Homo sapiens: one gene and its partners. The protein of the gene in region 3 interacts with the protein of the main gene of each other region in a biochemical or structural test. Each region holds a gene or a part of one and is shown on either strand. Other genes may lie near its edges.

Region 1 (5,937 bases), on a different chromosome or scaffold from region 3:
GCAGGCGCGGGGTCGGGGCCGCAGCCCCATTCAAATGCGCCTGCAGGGTCGTGTTTATGTTAATGCGCCTGGCGGGGAGGGGGATGAAAGCCGGGGCCGCCATTTGCTCAGTAGTGGTAATTCAAACAGAATGTGGTTGTTATTAAGGCATTGAAAGGGCTTTTCTTTGATAAGATCGCCTTGTCCTGCATTGTTTGCGGCTGTGTTGGCCTTTCAGCGGCTCGGGGGAGCTCCCTCTGATCAGGCCTGTATCTTCCCAGGACGCTTTTGTTGTGGTTTGCAAAGGGTTTTACCTGAACAAAGTCAGCCTGCGGGGCATTAAACACCTCCAGGCAACTCCCAGGCCCTTCAGATCTTTCTGTGGGATTGGGCACTGGGCGATTGAACCTGTTCAGCTGCAAGAAGACCCAAAAGTGGGACGGAGCCAGAGAGAACAGCTTCTGGCCAGGGCTCTGCCAAGGGCTGAGCCAAGACAGACCTGGTGGAGACGCCAGGCTCGGGCCTGCTCCAACATTGTGGACACTATTTGTCAAGGCCCTTCAGTAAAACAATCAATCTGGGATTTAATATGTTGACTCAATCCAATGAGCATAGATCACTGGTCAGGATAACTCTGGCCGGATTTGCAGCAGGAATAAATGGAGGATCAAAAAAGAAAAAGTACCAAACGCCAAACCTGGTCTGGGCAGGTATAAAGTGTCCCCAGCAGGAGGGGTTTTCTGCCTGTTCCCTCGGCCAGAGCCCAGCTCAGAATTCCACCTGATGGGCCTGGTGTGTCTGGGGGATGATTCTGGCGACTTGTCAGCTCCTGAGCCCCGCTTTCCACTTGTAGTAAAGCAAAGTAGTAACCCCCACACCCCCTCTACAACATGTGCCCACAATGACAGCTGTTTTCGGGGTGGGCTTCCATCTCTGGTAGGCCTGGAAATCTGGATGCTTCCAGGATCCCGGCCACTTCACCCTGCCCCCTTTCCCTTGGTGTCAAATATATGCCAGTACTGTATTTGGTTTACCGAAAGGGTGGTTACATTCTGCTGTCTTCTGTGTGAATGAGGTTTTCACTTTCCTTAATTTTTAAAAACCACTTAATACCAAGGTTAGTTTAGTTGCCTCCACTAGCCTCATACCCTCCCCCCACAGGACCCTCTGGGGGGTCTTGTCAGACTTGGCAGGAACCAGCCAAACCCGGGCCCCCCAGGGTGGTGGAGGAAGAGAAATGTCCCTGGGTTAGGGAGGTTTGTCATTACCCATGACTGATGGGCTGCCTTGCAGTTCTCAGCCCTCACTTCTCCTTCCTCCACAGTGAAAACCAGGACGAAAGACAAATATCGAGTGGTGTACACGGACCACCAGCGGCTGGAGCTGGAGAAGGAGTTTCACTACAGTCGCTACATCACCATCCGGAGGAAAGCCGAGCTAGCCGCCACGCTGGGGCTCTCTGAGAGGCAGGTGGGGACCGCCTAGCTCCCTCCGGGCGGGCCACTGCCTGGCAGAGGACCATGAGAGTTAGAAAATCTGGCTGCAGGGGCCATCTAAATCTGTGGAGAGACTGAAGCAGGAGGATGCAAGCATTCGTCTTTGGAGTCCTTTTTTTTTTTTTTTTTTTTTTTAAACAGAGATGGGGTCTTGCTTTGTGGCCCAGGCTGGAGTGTAGTGGCACAATCATAGCTCACTGCAGCCCTGACTTCCTGAGCTGAAGGGATCCTCCTGCCTCAGTCACCTGAGTAGCTTGGACTACAGGCTCGAGCCACCATGACTGGCTAATGTTTAAATTTTTTGCAGAGATGGTCTCACTGTCTTACCCAGGTTGGTCTCAAACTCCAAATGCTCCTCCTGTCTTGGACTCCTAAAGTGCTGAGATTACCGGTGTGAACCACCATGCCTGGCCTGGAGTACATGCCCCCCCACCCGCCACCGTCGAAACGCAGTTTCACTCTTGTTGTGCAGGCTGAAGTGCAATGGCGCGGTCTCAGCTCACTGCAACCTCTGCCTCCCGGGTTCAAGCGATTCTCCTGCTTCAGCCTCCCAAATAGCTGGGACTACAGGCATGTGCCACCACGCCCGGCTAATTTTGTATTTTTAGTAGAAATGCGGTTTCTCCATGTTAGTCAGGCTAGTCTCGAACTCCTGGCCTCAGGTGATCCACCCGCCTCGGCCTCCCAAAGTGCTGAGATTACAGGTGTGAGCCACTGTGCCTGGCCCTGGAGTACTTTTTTAAAAAGCCTCCTTCTACCTTTAGTCCTCTTTTTTTGATGTTGTTGATTTTTTCTGTCTCTCTCTTTTGAGGGATATAAGAAGTGTGAAAAACAGCCAAGGGTATTAGTTTAATCCAGAATTCCATTTGGGTCTATAAAGACATATTAAAGACCTATTCTCTTTGTTTCCAGCACTGTACCTAAGAAAATAAACTGAATAAAGTACTCAGTCTCTCACAAAAACTAGAGGGACAAGACTTGGTTCATGAACATTTTATATATATAGTCTAGAAAAACAGGCCAACTTCACAGCCAGGAAGCCACAAAATTAAATCTCATTTTCAGCTCTAAGGTGAGGAAAATTACGTTTTAGTTTAGCCTTGAGGGGCCAAAGGTTGCCATTTGAAGTATACCACCCAGCACTGGCCTCCCTTTGCTGTGTAGAAAGGGCCTTGCAGTTTCAGTTTTCCTTGGTTCTGAGACTTTAAACTTTTGCAGTAAATACGTAGATAAAAGTTGCTTTGAAAAGAAACTCAGGGAGCAAGGAAGGAGGAAGACTCTTCCCCATGAGGCTGAATTGGGCCTAAGAATGGATCCAGGGTTGGGCTGTTATGGGGATGCCCGAGGAAAGCTTCTAGAAGGACTTGGAGTTCTGTAGCTGGAGCAGAAGATGTTGATGATACTGCTGGGTACTGTTCCTCTTTTCCCTCACATCTTCACCACAATGTGCTTTTCTCCACCTTTCCATTTCTAGGTTAAAATCTGGTTTCAGAACCGCAGAGCAAAGGAGAGGAAAATCAACAAGAAGAAGTTGCAGCAGCAACAGCAGCAGCAGCCACCACAGCCGCCTCCGCCGCCACCACAGCCTCCCCAGCCTCAGCCAGGTCCTCTGAGAAGTGTCCCAGAGCCCTTGAGTCCGGTGTCTTCCCTGCAAGCCTCAGTGCCTGGCTCTGTCCCTGGGGTTCTGGGGCCAACTGGGGGGGTGCTAAACCCCACCGTCACCCAGTGACCCACCGGGTTCTGCAGCGGCAGAGCAATTCCAGGCTGAGCCATGAGGAGCGTGGACTCTGCTAGACTCCTCAGGAGAGACCCCTCCCCTCCCACCCACAGCCATAGACCTACAGACCTGGCTCTCAGAGGAAAAATGGGAGCCAGGAGTAAGACAAGTGGGATTTGGGGCCTCAAGAAATATACTCTCCCAGATTTTTACTTTTTCCCATCTGGCTTTTTCTGCCACTGAGGAGACAGAAAGCCTCCGCTGGGCTTCATTCCGGACTGGCAGAAGCATTGCCTGGACTGACCACACCAACCAGGCCTTCATCCTCCTCCCCAGCTCTTCTCTTCCTAGATCTGCAGGCTGCACCTCTGGCTAGAGCCGAGGGGAGAGAGGGACTCAAGGGAAAGGCAAGCTTGAGGCCAAGATGGCTGCTGCCTGCTCATGGCCCTCGGAGGTCCAGCTGGGCCTCCTGCCTCCGGGCAGGCAAGGTTTACACTGCGGAAGCCAAAGGCAGCTAAGATAGAAAGCTGGACTGACCAAAGACTGCAGAACCCCCAGGTGGCCTGCGTCTTTTTTCTCTTCCCTTCCCAGACCAGGAAAGGCTTGGCTGGTGTATGCACAGGGTGTGGTATGAGGGGGTGGTTATTGGACTCCAGGCCTGACCAGGGGGCCCGAACAGGGACTTGTTTAGAGAGCCTGTCACCAGAGCTTCTCTGGGCTGAATGTATGTCAGTGCTATAAATGCCAGAGCCAACCTGGACTTCCTGTCATTTTCACAATCTTGGGGCTGATGAAGAAGGGGGTGGGGGGAGTTTGTGTTGTTGTTGCTGCTGTTTGGGTTGTTGGTCTGTGTAACATCCAAGCCAGAGTTTTTAAAGCCTTCTGGATCCATGGGGGGAGAAGTGATATGGTGAAGGGAAGTGGGGAGTATTTGAACACAGTTGAATTTTTTCTAAAAAGAAAAAGAGATAAATGAGCTTTCCAGATTTCAGATTCTGTATTTATCTTCAGATTTTGTCTGCAACTATTTTTTATTTTTTAAAGAAATGAAATATCTTCTCTGCTTGCAAGCTGATTTGGAAAATTCAGAGAGGGAGTGGAGATTATCTGGACAGCCTCATTTTACCCCAGAGCATCAGAAGCCTGAAAGAGCAGGTTCTGAGACCTTCCCTGCCCCCAAGCCTGAGCCCAGCCTTGGAATGCGTGGCTCTCCTGGGGGTGCCTTTGGGCAAAATGCACATCTGAATGGCCAGGTGCTTCCCAGCAGTCAGAAATTATGGGGGGTGGGGGTGAGAGGGCCCCCTCATAGCATCTCACCAAATCCACATGGAGGCTTTTTGCAAACAGCAGGCAGTTCCCTTCTGCAGTGACTCCCTCCTAAGGACGCCCCACAACCCAGCTAGTTAAACGTGAGCATTAAATTTTTTTTAAAAAAAATCCCCCTAGTTTCCCAAGACAGCATTTCCATGAATTTAGTCTTCTGTAAATCACTGGGCATTTCCGTGAGCCCTTTCTGCCTCCACTCTCTTCTCTGTCTTTGCAGTTTCCTTATCCCCGACCGCGCCCCCCCTTCCAACCCAATCACCCCACAAACAAGATTTCTAGACCCAGTATAAAATGATCCTTTTAGTGACAGTTTCTTGTTATCTGGCCGATCCACTGGGGACCGGGCTGCAGCCTTTAAAATTTTTGATCCTGGAGGCCGCCGAGCTGAACTTTCCGGCAGGACCCGGGCGAGGGGGGCTTAGCCCTTCGTTTCGATCTTCCCACCAACATCCGAGAGCCTAATCAGCGCGCCCACGGAGGCGCCTTAAGGGCAGTTGGGGAAGATGAGCAGAGCCGGGAAACAGCAAGAGGTATAGACCCTCTGCAGCACCTCTCCAATTCCGCGGCCCTTCCGGGTGGCGTATACAGCTCCAGGATTGGGAAAGGGGCTCCGGTGGCCCGGCCCGCGGGCGCCTGGCCTCGAAGCCAGAGGGAGGAGTGCGGGGCGTGGGGTCGGGGGGTGCCGGGCAGAGGAGGAAGCCGTGTCCGGGTCCGCTGGGCGAGGGGTCCTGGGTCAGGGGTCCTGGGTCAGGGCCGGTCTGAGCCCCGGTGCCCCGCAGGTCTCCCCGCGCCCCGGCCGCGCCCACAGGCCCGCCCCCTAGCCGCCGGGGTTGCTATGCGTTGCCGTGAAACGCCTGTCAATAAACCCTGTTTGGACAGTGGAGCAAGAGCACATGGGTTGTTTGCTTAGTGGTTAGAGGTTCAAAAGTCGACATTGTCCCGCTGCAAGCGATTACAAGTTCTTCCCCTTCCCGGGGCTCGGTCCCCTTGCACGCGGGTACGGGGCCAGGGAAGGGAGCTCGGCTGCTCTCTGAGATGCAAGCACCCGGCTCGCTGCTGCGAGCGCCTGGCAAGCCTCCCGGGCCACGGAAAAAGGCGCAAAACCAAGACCCTCTCCGGCAAGTGAGGCCACCGCGCTTCTAACGCCAACTGTGTCACCCCCGAAGCAATACCTACGGAACAAGGGATGTGGCACGAGTAGGGAGCGCAGCTTGAGGAGTGTAGGGAGGCCTGCACAGGGGCGCCTGAGGTTGAGACCGGATGACCTCGCGGCTCCTGACGCCTCCAGCGCAGAGCTTGGGGTCCCGGCCTCCGAATCCCACGCCTCCACCGCGTCCAGTCGCCGGTTCAGGCGCCAGAGGGCGCGCGCGCTCTGGGAAGAGATGGGGCTTGGGCTCGTGAACCCGGAAAGGTTCCAGT
Region 2 (6,352 bases), on a different chromosome or scaffold from region 3:
GAGGGTAAATTGAGATAGAGGTACTTCAGAGGGTACCCAAAATGGCTGGCTTCAAAGTGAAGAATGGGGAGGAACAGAGCCCAGGTTTTCCATATGATCTCTCCCTCTGAGGTTCAGAAAGGAGTAAAGGTGAGGGGTGAAAGGTCAGAGTTCACTCATTCACACCACAGATCTCTAAGAGCATCCATTGTGTGCCAGGCCCTGCTGTAGGCACTGGAGGTATAGTAAGAACAAGAGAAAGTCTCAGCCCTGGGGGAGTTTCTTTCCTAGACAGGTGGAACAAATACAGACAGCAACCAAATACATGATGTGCCAGCAGCCCTTACAGTTCTTCCTCTTGAGGTCGGAGGTGAAGGCACGTCCTCAGTGCCCACCCCTCACCCTGCCCTGCAGGTATTGCCTGATGTGCGGCTACTGCCTCGGAGGCTGCCCCTGGCCTTCCGGGATGCAACCTCAGCCCCGCTGCGTAAGCTCTCTGTGGACCTCATCAAGACCTACAAGCACATCAATGAGGTGGGCAGGGGCTGGGGGATCCTGGGCTGGGTGCCGAGGGTCTTGTCTGCTGGCATGAGTCACTCACCAGTCCCCATCTCCTGGCTGGCTGGCTGGGCAGGTATACTATGCGAAGAAGAAGCGGCGGGCCCAGCAGGCGCCACCCCAGGATTCGAGCAACAAGAAGGAGAAGAAGGTCCTGAACCATGGTTATGATGACGACAACCATGACTACATCGTGCGCAGTGGCGAGCGCTGGCTGGAGCGCTACGAAATTGACTCGCTCATTGGCAAAGGCTCCTTTGGCCAGGTGTGGGACACCCCCCACCACCCTGATCCAAGGCCCCACTAACATTGATCACACACCCAGTGGTTCAGTGGCTTCAAGTCCCATGCTGGGCCACTCACCCTAGCCCACTTAGTTTCCCTGTGCCTCAGTCGCCTTTTCTGTAAAACAGTTTAAATAACAAGACTCAACATAAGGTCGTTATGTTATTTCACATCCAGTGTTTACACCAGCGCCTGACTAATGGTGCGCACTCAGCTGCGAAGTATGCATAGTGTTCTTGGTGGGTCTCCTTGCCTGGAGGGAGAAGAATGGTGCCTGGCTCTGCCCTGCTCCCACCCCTTTCTTCGTGACATGCCCTGCCCCAACAGGTGGTGAAAGCCTATGATCATCAGACCCAGGAGCTTGTGGCCATCAAGATCATCAAGAACAAAAAGGCTTTCCTGAACCAGGCCCAGATTGAGCTGCGGCTGCTGGAGCTGATGAACCAGCATGACACGGAGATGAAGTACTATATAGGTGAGGCCTGGGACTGGCAGGGCTGTGGGCACCTGGGATAGCGGGAGCTGGAGCCAGTAGGGATGGGTCACACCCCCGCCCTACTCTCAGGAGGAGGCTGATGTCTTCAGAGCAGGGTTTGGTCTGTGCTTCTCTGACATCAGTGATTCTCCTGCTGCTTTTATGATTTTTGTCCTATTTTCTTGGTAATGGTCAGAGGTTACTGAGTGCTCACCAAGGGCCAGGCTCTCTTGGAAGCACTTGGAAGTTAACTCACCACAGCCCATAAGGGGAAGGGCATTATTAACAACATCTTGAAGATAAGAAACCTGGGCTTCCATCCTAGTTTCTTCTTCAATAAAACAAACAAAACGGGCTGGGCACAGTGGCTCACGCCTGTAATCCCAGCACTTTTGGAGGCCGAGGTGGGCGGATCATGATATCAAGAGATCGAGACCATCCTGGCCAACATGGTGAAACCCCGTCTCTACTAAAAATGTGAAAAAATTAGCTTGATGTGGTGGTGCGCGCCTGTAGTCCCAGCTACTCAGGAGGCTGAGGCAGGAGAATCGCTTGAACCTGGGAGGCGGAGGTTACAGTGAGCTGGGACCACGCCACTGCACTCCAGCCTGATGACAGAGCGAGACTCCATCTCAAAAAAAAAAAAACCCAAAACAAACAAAAAACCAAACCTAATAACAACAACAACAGTTACAACAACAACAAAAAAAAACGAAGAAAGGAAAAAAGAAACTCAGGCATTCAAGTGCTGTCACTTGCATGAGGTGGCAGTTTGTACTAATTGAGCTATAATTTGATGAGGTCGTGGACTCCAGAGCTGTTACTCTTAACATCTGTGCCAGTCTTTCTCCTCCCTTAAACTGATTCCTGCTCATGGACATAAACATCACAACATAATCATAAACAGCAAGTGGATTTTAAAATGGTTTCGTTTGAAAGGAAAACGTATATCCTTAAAGTAAACGGAAAACCAGTGTCCTTTGCCACAAAAATGAATACAAGGGAGATGAAAGCAGTGTTATGAAATTAAATGAGGAAGTGTAGAATGTGTTAGAGCTAGTAGTAACTAATGAAACTTTCTCTTTGGTTTAATTGGAGGGTTTGACAGAGACTTGGAAAGAGCATTAACTTCCTGTGTGAATCTAGTTGTTAGATAAAAAGATTTTGACTAGCAGATGGTACCCGTGGGGACAGCACAATGTGGCTAGTAATCAAAGAGCGTTGTATGACCCCAGGCCACCACCTGCCCTCTCTGAGCCGTTTCTTCTCTGGCCCATTTCCTCCCCTCCCCCGCAGTACACCTGAAGCGGCACTTCATGTTCCGGAACCACCTGTGCCTGGTATTTGAGCTGCTGTCCTACAACCTGTACGACCTCCTGCGCAACACCCACTTCCGCGGCGTCTCGCTGAACCTGACCCGGAAGCTGGCGCAGCAGCTCTGCACGGCACTGCTCTTTCTGGCCACGCCTGAGCTCAGCATCATTCACTGCGACCTCAAGCCCGAAAACATCTTGCTGTGCAACCCCAAGCGCAGCGCCATCAAGATTGTGGACTTCGGCAGCTCCTGCCAGCTTGGCCAGAGGGTAGGGGGCGGCCCGGTCCTGGGAGCACGGCTAGTAGTTTGGGTGGGGCAGAGCCAACGGGAGGCTTAGGGGCGGGGCTTGGCTGGGATGGGATTATTAGGAGCCGTGGGAACTGAGGGATAATGCTTGGGGTGGGGGTGTGAATATACTGCCCACTAGGATGGGAAGGGTGAAGCCTGAGGGGCAGGGCCCATTTTGAAGCTGCCAGATGTGAACAGGGTGAAGTTGGGTTGGGTTTGAGCCAGGGGTGCTGCCTCGCTAAGTTTTTGTCTTCTCTGTTCTTAAAGCTGAGGATGGAGGTGGAAGGCTTCAACTTTGCAGCTCTGTATGAGCTGCCACTAAAAGTGACGATGGTATAGGGCTTATGGAATGTCAGCCTCTGCCTGGTGACCCAGAAGGGCCCAGGATCCGGGTTGGGGGTGGAGATCAGGGTCTGTCTAGGCCAGCAGACTCCCCAGATTGATAAACAAGATGGCACCAGTGGCTCCCAGAAAATTGGTGCTGATAATGGCAGGATTTGGAGCCTCAGTCCCCATTTTGTCAGCAAGAAGCCTGTCCTCAGTTGGGTCCTCTTAGCTTTGGGGGTGTCAGTGGGACCAGTAGGGGAGGCTGGGTCCCTTGACGATTACCCTTTTCCCAGATCTACCAGTATATCCAGAGCCGCTTCTACCGCTCACCTGAGGTGCTCCTGGGCACACCCTACGACCTGGCCATTGACATGTGGTCCCTGGGCTGCATCCTTGTGGAGATGCACACCGGAGAGCCCCTCTTCAGTGGCTCCAATGAGGTGTGCCCCCAGGAAGGGGTGTGCTGGAGGTGGAGGGGGTGGAGCCTGGCTGGCCTGATGACCTTGACCCCTGCCTGCTCACAGGTCGACCAGATGAACCGCATTGTGGAGGTGCTGGGCATCCCACCGGCCGCCATGCTGGACCAGGCGCCCAAGGCTCGCAAGTACTTTGAACGGCTGCCTGGGGGTGGCTGGACCCTACGAAGGACGAAAGAACTCAGGAAGGTGCGGCCCCTGCCCCATGCCACTCCTCCCACCCCGTGGCCCCTCACTCACACTTGGGGCTCTCTCCCCCTGCTCCCTCTCCCTTGTGTCTTTCCCTTCCTTCCACTCCCCCTTGTCTGTCCTTTCCTTCCTCCCCTGCCCACCCCATCTCCCATCTCTCCTTCCCACCCCACAACTCTTCTTAGCTTTTCTTTCCACTTTCTCTCTTGTGCCTCTGTTTCCCCGTGTGTGTCTCCCTGCCCCTCCTGCCCACTGACGGCCACTCTCTTGCCCCCCCTCCCACCCCCTCCCTGCCAGGATTACCAGGGCCCCGGGACACGGCGGCTGCAGGAGGTGCTGGGCGTGCAGACGGGCGGGCCCGGGGGCCGGCGGGCGGGGGAGCCGGGCCACAGCCCCGCCGACTACCTCCGCTTCCAGGACCTGGTGCTGCGCATGCTGGAGTATGAGCCCGCCGCCCGCATCAGCCCCCTGGGGGCTCTGCAGCACGGCTTCTTCCGCCGCACGGCCGACGAGGCCACCAACACGGGCCCGGCAGGCAGCAGTGCCTCCACCTCGCCCGCGCCCCTCGACACCTGCCCCTCTTCCAGCACCGCCAGCTCCATCTCCAGTTCTGGTGGGTGCCCAGGTGCCCAAATGGGGTACAACGGGTGGGGGCTGCTCAGGTTTGGCCTGTCCTGGGGGACCTGGTTACTGGGTCTTCACACAAAGCGCCGAAACTGATCCTGAACTGTAAGATGACGTGTGGGATGGGAGAGCTCCAACTGGCCCTGACACAATCACTGAAATTGGGCTCAGAGCCCTGAAACTGGTTCTGACTCTAAAACCCAAAACTGAATTCCAACCCAGAATCTCAGAATTGGGCCCGGTGCTTCAGATGGGCTCTGCTCTTGAAGCCTGAACCTGAGCCTGGGCCGTGACCTTCCCTCAGCCATCCCAAAACCCACTCGCCACCTTCTCTCACCTTATGCCCCTTCACCTCTCCTCCCTGGCACTTCCAGGAGGCTCCAGTGGCTCCTCCAGTGACAACCGGACCTACCGCTACAGCAACCGATATTGTGGGGGCCCTGGGCCCCCTATCACAGACTGTGAGATGAACAGCCCCCAGGTAATGGGGCTTTGGGGGCTTTGGAGGTGGGTGGTGGTGCCTGGGGCTTAGAGACCAGGGTCTCCATCACCCATGGCTCCTTTGCTTTTTTAGGTCCCACCCTCCCAGCCGCTGCGGCCCTGGGCAGGGGGTGATGTGCCCCACAAGACACATCAAGCCCCTGCCTCTGCCTCGTCACTGCCTGGGACCGGGGCCCAGTTACCCCCCCAGCCCCGATACCTTGGTCGTCCCCCATCACCAACCTCACCACCACCCCCGGAGCTGATGGATGTGAGCCTGGTGGGCGGCCCTGCTGACTGCTCCCCACCTCACCCAGCGCCTGCCCCCCAGCACCCGGCTGCCTCAGCCCTCCGGACTCGGATGACTGGAGGTCGTCCACCCCTCCCGCCTCCTGATGACCCTGCCACTCTGGGGCCTCACCTGGGCCTCCGTGGTGTACCCCAGAGCACAGCAGCCAGCTCGTGACCCTGCCCCCTCCCTGGGGCCCCTCCTGAAGCCATACCCTCCCCCATCTGGGGGCCCTGGGCTCCCATCCTCATCTCTCTCCTTGACTGGAATTGCTGCTACCCAGCTGGGGTGGGTGAGGCCTGCACTGATTGGGGCCTGGGGCAGGGGGGTCAAGGAGAGGGTTTTGGCCGCTCCCTCCCCACTAAGGACTGGACCCTTGGGCCCCTCTCCCCCTTTTTTTCTATTTATTGTACCAAAGACAGTGGTGGTCCGGTGGAGGGAAGACCCCCCCTCACCCCAGGACCCTAGGAGGGGGTGGGGGCAGGTAGGGGGAGATGGCCTTGCTCCTCCTCGCTGTACCCCCAGTAAAGAGCTTTCTCACATGCCTGCCTGAGCGTTTGCAGGGCCTCGGCTCCCCTCACCCGACCCTCAGAGGCATGGTGGGGAAGGGGGTTTGCGGAGGGGGTGCTGGAGGAGCTCTGGTGTGGAGACGTCTCGTGGGGAAGCTGTGGCGCGTGTTGCAGGCATGAGTCTGCAGGTCTGGGGCATCAGCATTCTAGATAGATCGTGGACAGGATCCTGGCCTACATTTGCCTTTTCCTGGGTAAATAGACCCTGAAAGGGTAAAGGTTCAGCTCTGGCCTGTCTCTGGGAAACAGGTGCCCTAATAAGCCGGGGCGTCCGCAGACTTAGCACAAGAGTGGCTCCTCATGCCAAGCAGGCGTCCAGTAGCAGCTGAGTACACTTAGGAGGCTTTGTTGGTGCCATCTGGGGAACAGGCAGACAATAGGTACAGACTCTGTCCCCACGTGTACTGTCCAGCTCTTTGGAATCATCGCGAAACAAAGAGTTTTGAGATTCTGAGACAAAAAGATTTTCCCGGGGTTCCAGGTAAGTGGTCCTGTTTC
Region 3 (8,017 bases):
GTGGATCTTTTGAGGCCAGGAGTTTGAGACCAGCCTGGCAAACATGGTGAAACCCTGTCTCTACCAAAAATACAAAAATTAGCCAGGCATGGTGGTGTGTGCCTGTAGTCCCAGCTACTCAGGAGGCTAAGGTAGGAGGATTGCTCGAACCCAGGAGGCAGAGGTTACAGTGAGCTGAGATCGCACCACTGTACTCCAGCCTGGGTGACAAAGTGAGGCTCTGTCTCAAAAATAAAAATAAAACATAAATGCACTGGAGGAAAGAGGGTACCACTCTCCTTAAGGCGGGGGCTGCCAACTTGTCCTGCACAGCCCGTCCGCCTGCCTCAGGTGGACTTAAAGCCCAGCTCTGAGGGACTCTGAGCAGTCATTTAACCTCTCTGAGCCTCTCTTTCCTCCCCTGCAGAAGGGGGATTATAACAGTTCCTAATTCATGAGTTGTTCTTGGAGTGAAATACATTACTGGCCAGGTGAGATGGCTCATGCCTGTAATCCCAACACTTTGGGAGGCTGAGGTGAGAGGATTGCTTGAGCCCAGGAGTTCGAGACCAGCCTGGGCAACAAAGCAAGACCCCCATCTCTAAGAAAAGTAAATAAATAGGCAGGGTGCAGTGGCTCACCCCTGTAATCCCAGCACCTTGGGAGGACGAGGTGGGCAGATGGCTTGGGCTCAGGAGTTTGAGACCAGCCTGGGCAATGTGGCAAACTCTTGTCTCTACTAAAAAATACAAAAATTAGCGAGGCATGGTGGCACACGCTTGTAGTCCCAGCTATTGGAGAGGCTGAGGTGGGAGGATCACGGGAGCCCCAGAAGCATAGGTTGCAGTTTGCCAAGATTGTGCCACTGCACTCCAGCTCGGGCGACAGAAGGAGACCCTGTCTCAAAAAACAAACAAAAAAGATAAATATATAAATGAAGCTGGGCATGATGGTGCGTACCTGTAGTTCCAGCTACTTGGGATGCTGAGGTGGGAGGATTGCTTGAAGCCAGGAGTTCTAGGCTGAAGTGAGCTATGATCATGCCAGCCTGGGTGACAGAGTAAGAATCTGGCTCTTAAAAAAATAAAAAGTAAAATGGAACAGGTGAAGTTATTTTCTTTAATTTTTAAAATAAAAAGTTATTTTTATAAATAAAATTTTAATTTAAACCAAATTATTTTAAACTAAATATAACATTATATTTGTATAATATATAAATAATATTTTAATTAAATCTAATTTAAAATTATTCTAAATGTTAACTTTTTTTTTTTTTTTTTTTTTTTGAGAGGGAGTCTCGCTCTGTCGCCCAGGCTGGAGTACAGTGGCGCGATCTCGGCTCACTGCAAGCTCCGCATCCTGGGTTCACGCCATTCTCCTGCCTCAGCCTCCTAAGTAGCTGGGACTACAGGCGCCCGCCACCACGCCAGGCTAATTTCTTGTATTTTTAGTAGAGACGGGGTTTCACCATGTTAGGCAGGATGGTCTCAATCTCCTGACCTTGTGATCCGCCCACCTCGGCCTCCCAAAGTGCTGAGATTACAGGCGTGAGCCACCGCGCCCGGCCTAAATGTTAACTTTTAAATTGTCTTTTTTTTTTTTTTTTTTTTTTTTGAGACAGTGTCTTGCTGTATCACCCAGGCCAGAGTGCAGTGGCATGATCTTGGTTCACTGCCACCTCCGCCTCCCAGGTTCAAGTGATTTTCCTGCCTCAGCCTCCTGAGGTTAATTTTTGTATTTTTATTACAGATGGGGTTTCACCATATTGGTCAGGGTGGTCTCGAACTCCTGACCTCAGGTGATCTACCCACCTTGGCCTCCCAAAAGTGCTGGGATTACAGGCGTTAGCCACCACGCCCGGCCAAAATTTTCTTAATTTAAAAATTTAACTCAATATATTTTTTAAAAATTATCATTTCAAGAAGTGACATTAGCCATCTTTCAAGTGCTTGGTAGCCACATGTGGCTGGTGGGTGAGGGCAGGGCCTGTTTTTTTTTTTTTTTTTTTTTTTGAGACAGAGTTTTGCTCTTGTTGCCCAAACTGGAGTGCAATGGCGTGATCTCGGCTCACTGCAACCTCCGCCTCCTGGGTTCAAGTGATTCTCCTGTCTCAGCCTCCTGCGTGCATCACCATGCCCAGCTTTTTAAATTTTTAGTAGAAATGGGGTTTCATCATGTTAGCCAGGCTGGTCTCAAATTCCTGACCTCAGGTGATCCACCCACCTCGGCCTCCCAAAGTACTGGGATTACAGGCATGAGCCACTGTGCCTGGCCACAGGGCCTGTATTTAGATGTTTGCTATTTTGTTCAGCACAGATTATTTTACATTAGTTAAAAAATATTTTTTGAGGCCGGGCATGGTGGCTCACACCTGTAATCCCAGCACTTTGTGGGGCTGAGATGGGAGGATCTCTTGAGTCCAGGAGTTTGAGACCAGCCTGGGCAACATGGTGAAACTCCGTCTCTACCAAAAATACAAAAAAAAAAAAAAAAAAAATTAGCTGGGTGCAGTGGTGCACACCTGTAGTCCCAGCTACTCGGGAGGCTGAGGTAGAAGGATGATTTGAGCCCAGGAGGCGGAGGTTGCAGTGAGCCCAGATCATGCCATTGCACTCTAGCTTGGGCAACAGAGCCAAACCCTGTCTCAAAAAATAAAAATAAATAAAAATGAAAAAAAAAATCAGAATTGCACACATGAAATGGGTGAATTGTATGGTAAGTATATCTCAATAAAGCTACAACAATATTTTTATTGATTTACATACCATCAAACTCGCCCTTTTAAAATGTGCAATTCATTGGGTTTTAATAAAGTCACAGAGTTGTCCGATATCACCACAATCAATTGTAGAACATTTTTATCATCCTAAAGAAACCCAGCACCATGGAGTGGCCACTCCCCATTCCCTTCTCCCACCCAGGCCCTGACAACCACAAATCCACTTCCTGTCTCTATGGATTTGCCTGTTCTGGACATTTCAGATAAATGGACTCACACACTATGTAGTCTTTAGTGACCACTTTTTCACTTAGCATCATGTTTTCAAGGCTCATGCATGTTGTGGCATGTACTGGAACTCCATTCCTTTATATGACCAAATAATATACCATTGCATTGGCTGGATGCGGTGGCTCATGCCTGTAATCCCAGCACTTTGGGGGGCCAAGGCGAGGGCATCACCTAAGGTCAGGAGTTCGAGACTAGTCTGGCCAACATGGTAAAACCCCATCTCTACCAAAAATACAAAAATTAGCTGGGCGTGGTGGTACATACCTGTAGTTCCAGATACTCGGGAGGCTCAGGCAGGAGAATTGCTTGAACCCGGGAGGCGGAGGTTGCAGTGAGCCAAGATTGCACCACTGCACTCCAGCCTGGGCAACAGAGCGAGACCCCCATCTCAAAAAAAAAAAAAAAGAAAGAAAAAAATATATATGTCTATACCATTGCATGGTCAAGCCATATTTTGTTTATATATTCATCAGGTGATGAATATTTATGTTTTTTCCACTTTTTGGCTCTTGTGAATAATGCTGCTATGAGCATTCACGCACAAGTTTTTGTATAGACATCTGTTTTTAATTCTTTGGGGTTTTGCATTCATTTTAATTTTAAAAACATATTGCATAAAAATGTTATTTACCTTGATGACTGGGTTTTTTGGCATTCCCTTAAAATTTGCACCTGGGCTGCCAGGCATGGTGGCGCACGCCTGTAATCCTAACACTTTGGGAGGCTGAGGTGGGCGGATGGCTTGAGTCCAGGAGTTTGAGACCAACCTGGGCAGCATGGCAAGACCCTGTCTCCACAAAAAATACACACACAAGGCCGGGCACAGTGGCTCACACCTGTAATCCCAGCACTTTGGGAGGCCGAGGCGGACGAATCACTTGAGGTCAAGAGTTCAAGACCAGCCTGGCCAACATGGTGAAACCCCAACTCAATAAAGAATACAAAAAAATTAGCCGGGTGTAGTGGTATGTGCCTGTAATCCCAGCTACTCCGGAGGCTGAGGCAGGGGAATCGCTTGAACCTGGGAGGCGGAGGTTGCAGTGAGCCAAGATTGCTCCACTGCACTCCAAGCCTGGGTGACAGAGTGAGACTCTGTCTCAAAAACACACACACACACAACCCAAACACACACAACACACACACACAAAATCAGCTGGGTGTCGTGGTGCGTGCCTGTAGTGCCAGCTACTTGGGTACTTGGGTGGCTGAGGCGGGAGGATCACCTGAACCCAGGAAGTCAAGGCTGCAGTAAGCCATGATCGCGCCACAGCACTCCAGCCTGGGTGACAAAGTGAGAACATAGCTCAAAAAATAAAAAAATAAATTTGCACCTGAGGCAAGTGTCACACTCATCCCAACTCAGTCTCACCTTGCATGTTTTCTGCCTTGCTGGCTGTATGACCCTGGACAAGTTACTTAACCGCTCAGAGCCTCGATTTCCTCCTCTATAAAATGGGGATAATCTCTGTAACTGCTCACAGTTGGTAGCAGAATGCAATGAAGTGAATTCGCCCTCACAGAGCCAGCACTGTTCTTGGCACATGGTAATCTTAACATATTTTTTCCTACAGGGAGGCCTGGTGTCAGGCCGGGAGTGGGGTGGAAGGGTCCCAAAATGGATGGAAGGGCCCCAAAATGGCCGTGAGCATCCTCTGCCCTTGAGAAGAGCTAGCCCAGCTGTCTAGAGCTCCCTGCTGCTGCCGCTCTCGTAAGCAGCAAGCATTTTTGGCTCTCCTGTCTCAGCATGATGCCCCTACAAGGTTCTTTCGGGGGTGGGACCCAACGCTGCTCTCCTGATGGCCTCCCTGGCTCCCAGCACCTTCCATCCCAGCTGCTCAGGGCCCCTCACCTGCGCCTCCCCCACCCTCCCCTCTGCCCACTCCCATCGCAGGCCATAGCTCCCTGTCCCTCTCCGCTGCCATGAGGCCTGCACTTTGCAGGGCTGAAGTCCAAAGTTCAGTCCCTTCGCTAAGCACACGGATAAATATGAACCTTGGAGAATTTCCCCAGCTCCAATGTAAACAGAACAGGCAGGGGCCCTGATTCACGGGCCGCTGGGGCCAGGGTTGGGGGTTGGGGGTGCCCACAGGGCTTGGCTAGTGGGGTTTTGGGGGGGCAGTGGGTGCAAGGAGTTTGGTTTGTGTCTGCCGGCCGGCAGGCAAACGCAACCCACGCGGTGGGGGAGGCGGCTAGCGTGGTGGACCCGGGCCGCGTGGCCCTGTGGCAGCCGAGCCATGGTTTCTAAACTGAGCCAGCTGCAGACGGAGCTCCTGGCGGCCCTGCTCGAGTCAGGGCTGAGCAAAGAGGCACTGATCCAGGCACTGGGTGAGCCGGGGCCCTACCTCCTGGCTGGAGAAGGCCCCCTGGACAAGGGGGAGTCCTGCGGCGGCGGTCGAGGGGAGCTGGCTGAGCTGCCCAATGGGCTGGGGGAGACTCGGGGCTCCGAGGACGAGACGGACGACGATGGGGAAGACTTCACGCCACCCATCCTCAAAGAGCTGGAGAACCTCAGCCCTGAGGAGGCGGCCCACCAGAAAGCCGTGGTGGAGACCCTTCTGCAGTAAGGAGCCCTGCCCCGTCCCCGCTCCCAGGAGAGCCTAGAGGGGCCCCCCTCAGCTCCTAACGAGCCCCCCTTCTGAGTTGAGTCCCCATGACCTTCAGCCTTTAGCCTAGTTGCTGGGAAGGGGGACAGGGCCCATGAGAGCCCAGGGGTCCTTGCTTGGAGGTTTGAGCCTCCAGCCCCTGAACTGCTCCTCTGCAGAGTCCCAAATCCCATGAGCCCAGGCCTTTAGCCCAGTCCTTGGGCAAGGGGGACATTTCCCAGGGGGGTCCAAGATGGGAGAAAAAGCAGGTGAGTTCACAACTCAAATGCCTGGAGAACTGGGAGGTGGTGGAAATTTTTAGCCACTCTGATCATTTATACTCTCCAGACCCTAACTCCTGCACTGAGTCCTCAGTGGGTAGGCTCCGGGGCCCAGGAAGCACTGCCAGGGAGGAGGGCCCGAAGCTGGGGTTTGGGGGCTTTCCTGGCCTCCTAGGGACTCATGCGTTTAGCCAGGGAAGCCCAGGTCTTTCTTACCTGAGGCAGACAGAGCCTCGAGGTGGGAGCTGCTCCCCTTTCCTGTATGGCCACAGGCACCCCACCTCACCAGCAGGCGCCATTAGAGGCTGCCCGTTCTACATCCCCATCCGCTGGCGGACTCCCCGTCTCCTGGAGAACTGGGTGGGTCCTGAGCTCGATGCCTCCCCTCTCCTCAGCAGAGCTGACCTAGTTACTAATTACCCATGTGCTTTATTATTTCTCTTTTGTTTTATAAATTTATAAATGGCAAAAGGCTCTGATAAGGTCTGTGATCATTAACTTGTAGGAATGGTGGCCTGGAAAGATCTGGGCCAACCCACCTCCCACCTAGTGGGGGTGGGGGATGGGGGTGTGGGGGAGAAGGAAGGATGGCCTGGGGGCTACAGGGGCCACCCCTCCCCAGCGGCTCCCTGACCTCCACCCTACAGCGCCTGCTTGAGGAGGTTCACTACTTCCTGGGCGCTGTGCTGAGGTTTCACAGGAATAATTTCCCTTCATGGTGAGGAGTCCTGGGCAGAAGCTATTGGTGACTCTGCTTCACAAATGGGGAAACTGGGGCTTAGAGCCGGGAAGGAGCTAGACTAAGTTCACCAAACTGAGGCCCCAAACCTACTCTGTTCGGTGCTCTCAATTGCTATGACCGGGGACCAGAGGCCTGCAGGGGGTGGCCAGGGAGTCAGAGAGAGACCGAGCCCCAAAGATGCTCCAAAGGGGCCCATCTCTTTTCTGTCCAAGGTCCTGATCCCAGCTGGGGTGGGGGAGGGCTGGTGGATTCCTGCTTTCCCAGAGGCCTCAGGGAGCCTCCCGAGGGCCTGGACAGGGGGCAGGGGAGCAGTCAGGGCCCCCTGACTTGGCAGGAAGAGGAGGGCAAAGGACTCCAGAGCTGCAGGGGAGGGGCAAAGAGTCAGGCATCCCAGACCCAGGGCGAAGGCAACCTGACGGGGTGGGGCTGGGCCTGACCTGCCCAGGGCCCCAGATGGGACTGGGGGCTTTGGGGTGAGGGTGGGGGCAGGGGATGCTTTCTTACCTGGCTGAGTGAGCTCTCTCGGTCAGCAGCCCCCTTTGGTGGGATGGTGGGGTTGGGGAGGCTTGATCCACAGCATTTGAAGGGGAAGCAGAGGTCAAAGTGCTTCCTAGGGACCAGCAGAGACCTGGAAGCTGAGGCAGAGAGTGTAGAGAGAGGCCATTGGGGGAGATGGACAGAGAAGCTGGGAGAAGCAGAACGGAGGAGCCAGGGGGGCGGGGGCTCAGACCCAGCTGGGAGAAGGGGCACGGGAGAGAATGAGGCGCCCCAAGCTTGCAAGGAGGCTGGAGTGCTTCCCGCCTGCCCCGATTGGGTTTTCTTTAATGCTAACAGCATGCTATTTACTTTCCATTTAAATTTGAGATGTTGCTATAAATTATCAACCAGCTCCTTGTTCCTGCAGAGTTTATAACTAACTACCTGGGTTACTTATTGTTCAGGTAACAAAAGGGATCGGAAAACGCCCTGAGTGAAAAAAGTGGGGCCTCCAGCGTCAGGGTCAGGAAAGGAGCCAGGGAGAGAGGGGCGGGGGACCCCTATTGAAGGCCTGGGCCATTGGGGAGGTTGAGGCTGGGAAGACGGTACAGAGGCAGAATGTCTAGTAGAAGCTGTTTCCCGGGAGAAGTCAGTGTCTGGGAAGAAGCCGGGGTGGGTCCTGGGTCCCAGGCCTCCCTGGGGTGCCCCATGTTGGTGGCCACAGCAGGAACCTGAGCTCTTTCTTCAGATCTCCCCCTTAGCTCCCTGAGTGACCTTGGGAAAGTCTGTTCCTCTCCTTCTGCCTCAGTTTCCCTCCCTGGCCAAGGAATAAAGTCCAAACTCCCTGCCTTGGTTTCGTTCCCCTCCCTCCACCCCACCAAATTCCTGGATCTCTTCCCAGGTCTTTCTCTTCCTCTCGGCCTTTGCTGCAGTCATTTTGGCTTTG
Region 4 (2,595 bases), on a different chromosome or scaffold from region 3:
TCCCTTCCTGGAACTTTTAGCAGCAGTCTTCTGAGGAGATAGTTCAAGTGGAAACCATGCACATCTGAAGACATTTGAACAGACGGCCAAGACTGGCCAGGCCAAAAGCCTGTTGTGGTGTTTCCACCTTGTTGACATCCTAAATAGCAAGACTTTCTTCCTACTGCAAGGACAATCTCTAACTCAAGCCTGAGAACCAGTGACAGGATGTCAAGGGGGAAATGATTATAGAGGAGTCTCCTGGGGGGAAGCTAATTCATCCTCCTGCGTCTAGGCCTTGAATTGGTGATGTCCAGAAGTCCTTTCTCTTAGAACACTAACCTGGCTCTCACTCCACTTAAATAGGCCTTTGGGTTCATGACAAGAGTGGCCCTGCAGGCTGAGAAACTGGACCACCATCCTGAATGGTTTAACGTGTACAACAAGGTGAGTGATGCTGTGTGCCTCTGTTGTGCTCTGCCCCCATCCAAATACTGCGAACTCTGACACATTCTGAAGGCTTTTGGACTTAACAATGAGCCTTCCTGACCCATAGGTCATCCACTCATCTCATTTCCAATCTCACTGAGATTGCACATGCCTAGAATCAACATAAATACCCCTGGGAAAAAAAAATCAGTCTTACTATAAAGAAATGCAAATTAAAAGATGCATGAGATAGTTGTGGTTAAAGTAGACATTTAAGTAGACATTAAGAAGGCAAAACCCAAGAAAGGAAAGGCTGTGGGAATCAGGCATACTTATTCAGTGTTCATAGCTCTAAATGGCTTTAATCTTGCTGGAGGTATGGAAGAATGAAAAAGTAATAAACTTGAACTAAGAATACACACATATTTGGGAGGCCGAGGTGGGCAGATCACGAGGTCAGGAGATCAAGACCCTCCTGGCTAACATGGTGAAACCCTGTCTCTACTAAAAACACAAAAAAATTAGGCGGGCGCGGTGGTGGACGCCTGTAGTCCCAGCTACTGGGGAGGCTGAGGCAGGAGAATGGTGGGAACCCGGGAGGCGGAGCTTGCAGTGAGCAGAGATTGAGCCACTGCACTCCAGCCTGGGAGACAGAGCAAGACTCCGTCTCAAAAAAAAAAAAAAAAAAAAATACAGACACATAGCCAACCTATCAAATTATTTGCTTAATGAATAGAAACAGTCATTAAATGTCTACCATGTGCCAAAAGCTCTGCTGGTCTCTGTTTATAAAAACAGTAAGGGTGGAAGAGGTCGTCTATGAATGGATAGTGTTTAGGAGTTGGCATTGGTTTTTGGTTTTGTCTTTAGCTTTTAGGTTGCTCTTGACATTCAGATATTAAGCTTTTATTCTATAGCTGAAGTCATGATTATTTTTGAGAGACAGCAAAGGGGAGATGTAGAAGATGTTGTTACAGACATGTCAGGAAGGAGTCCCCAGGAGAGATCGTACTGGCCAGCTGCTATTCTGGAGCTCCTAGCAGGGCTGAGCCCAGCAGCTAGTGACTCCCTCCTGTTCTTAAGTGAAGTCAGTGGAAGCAGAATTTCTGGTTTCATTTCAGGTCCACATCACGCTGAGCACCCATGAGTGTGCCGGCCTTTCAGAACGGGACATAAACCTGGCCAGCTTCATCGAACAAGTAGCAGTGTCCATGACATAGACCCTGCCCTTCCTCTTTGAATTCTTCCGGGGGAAGGGGTGACTGAACTGGGAGTCCAGGGAGGGAGCTGAGGAGCCCTTACCCTCCCACCACTCCCCTCCCAAGACCCAGCCGCCGCCGTTGAGGGCTGAGTCCTTGCTGTGGGATGTGCCAGTGTCCCCACCAACACCAGGAATTTAGACCTTTTCCCTGCACCACTCTCTTCATCCTGGGGGCTCTGTTACACTAATTTGAATAAACTCTCCCCTTTCTTTGCAACTTCCCAGCAACAATAATGATTTTCTTGCCAGGCCGTCTCTTGCTCCCTAATTCATTTCCCAGGAAGCTGTGATACAGGGTGAAATAAAGTCTTGTCTTAGAAACCAGGACCCTAAACCCCACACTATGTAATAGAAACACATGTGTTTTTATGTCTCAAATAAAACTATTATATCACTTGGTCTCAGGCTCTAGAAACTTCTTTTCCACAGGTCAATCCAAATTGGAGTCAATAGGCATTTAAATGAAAGCACTTCCTCTGTGCTAGGCACTTCCTCTGTTCAAGGTACTGGAAAATGACAGGGACCAGACCACCTTGCCTTCAGATTCATTATCATCTAGGGGATACCATTTGATTATCATCAAACAGGAACACAATTAACTATTACCAATTACCAATTAACTAGTACTAATTAACTATTACTAGAGTGAATTAATGCTAGGTGGCAGGATAAGAAATGAGCTAAAGGGAACGCAAGTGATTAATGGTGAAAAGGGCAAATCTGGAGGCTTTGAGTTATGCCTTGAAGACCTGGGTAGGATTCTTGGGAGGCAGAGATGGCTGAGAGAACACCATGAACACAGATAAGGGTGTGAAGGGCACAGGTATTATATGCATTGTGGAACCTATGTCTAGAAAGGCAGTCTGGGGCCATATTACAGGTTGAACATCCCTAATTTGAAAATTGGAAATCCAAAATCTGAAACT

Evidence for each region.
Region 1: the proteins of HNF1A (region 3) and CDX2 form a complex in vitro, tested with the Homo sapiens proteins (one study listed by BioGRID).
Region 2: of the proteins of HNF1A (region 3) and DYRK1B, one has a biochemical effect on the other in vitro, tested with the Homo sapiens proteins (2 studies listed by IntAct, with this or other methods).
Region 4: the proteins of HNF1A (region 3) and PCBD1 form a complex in vitro, tested with the Homo sapiens proteins (one study listed by BioGRID).

The regions. Positions count from the first base shown.
Region 1 is NC_000013.11:27,960,382-27,966,318, reverse strand, and holds the end of CDX2 (homeobox protein CDX-2), read left to right. Parts: intron 1-1,279; coding exon of another isoform or gene 1,280-1,303; coding exon 1,304-1,449; intron 1,450-2,949; coding exon 2,950-3,204; 3' UTR 3,205-5,401; downstream 5,402-5,937.
Region 2 is NC_000019.10:39,824,825-39,831,176, reverse strand, and holds the end of DYRK1B (dual specificity tyrosine-phosphorylation-regulated kinase 1B), read left to right. Parts: intron 1-393; coding exon 394-513; intron 514-613; coding exon 614-802; intron 803-1,149; coding exon 1,150-1,297; intron 1,298-1,374; exon of another isoform or gene 1,375-1,461; intron 1,462-2,593; coding exon 2,594-2,880; intron 2,881-3,520; coding exon 3,521-3,667; intron 3,668-3,751; coding exon 3,752-3,892; intron 3,893-4,189; coding exon 4,190-4,505; intron 4,506-4,890; coding exon 4,891-4,997; intron 4,998-5,090; coding exon 5,091-5,462; 3' UTR 5,463-5,827; downstream 5,828-6,352.
Region 3 is NC_000012.12:120,973,546-120,981,562, forward strand, and holds the start of HNF1A (hepatocyte nuclear factor 1-alpha), read left to right. Parts: upstream 1-4,997; 5' UTR 4,998-5,223; coding exon 5,224-5,549; intron 5,550-8,017. UniProt on the Homo sapiens protein: Transcriptional activator that regulates the tissue specific expression of multiple genes, especially in pancreatic islet cells and in liver. Binds to the inverted palindrome 5'-GTTAATNATTAAC-3'.
Region 4 is NC_000010.11:70,882,983-70,885,577, reverse strand, and holds the end of PCBD1 (pterin-4-alpha-carbinolamine dehydratase), read left to right. Parts: intron 1-345; coding exon 346-426; intron 427-1,529; coding exon 1,530-1,628; 3' UTR 1,629-2,068; downstream 2,069-2,595. UniProt on the Homo sapiens protein: Involved in tetrahydrobiopterin biosynthesis. Seems to both prevent the formation of 7-pterins and accelerate the formation of quinonoid-BH2. Coactivator for HNF1A-dependent transcription.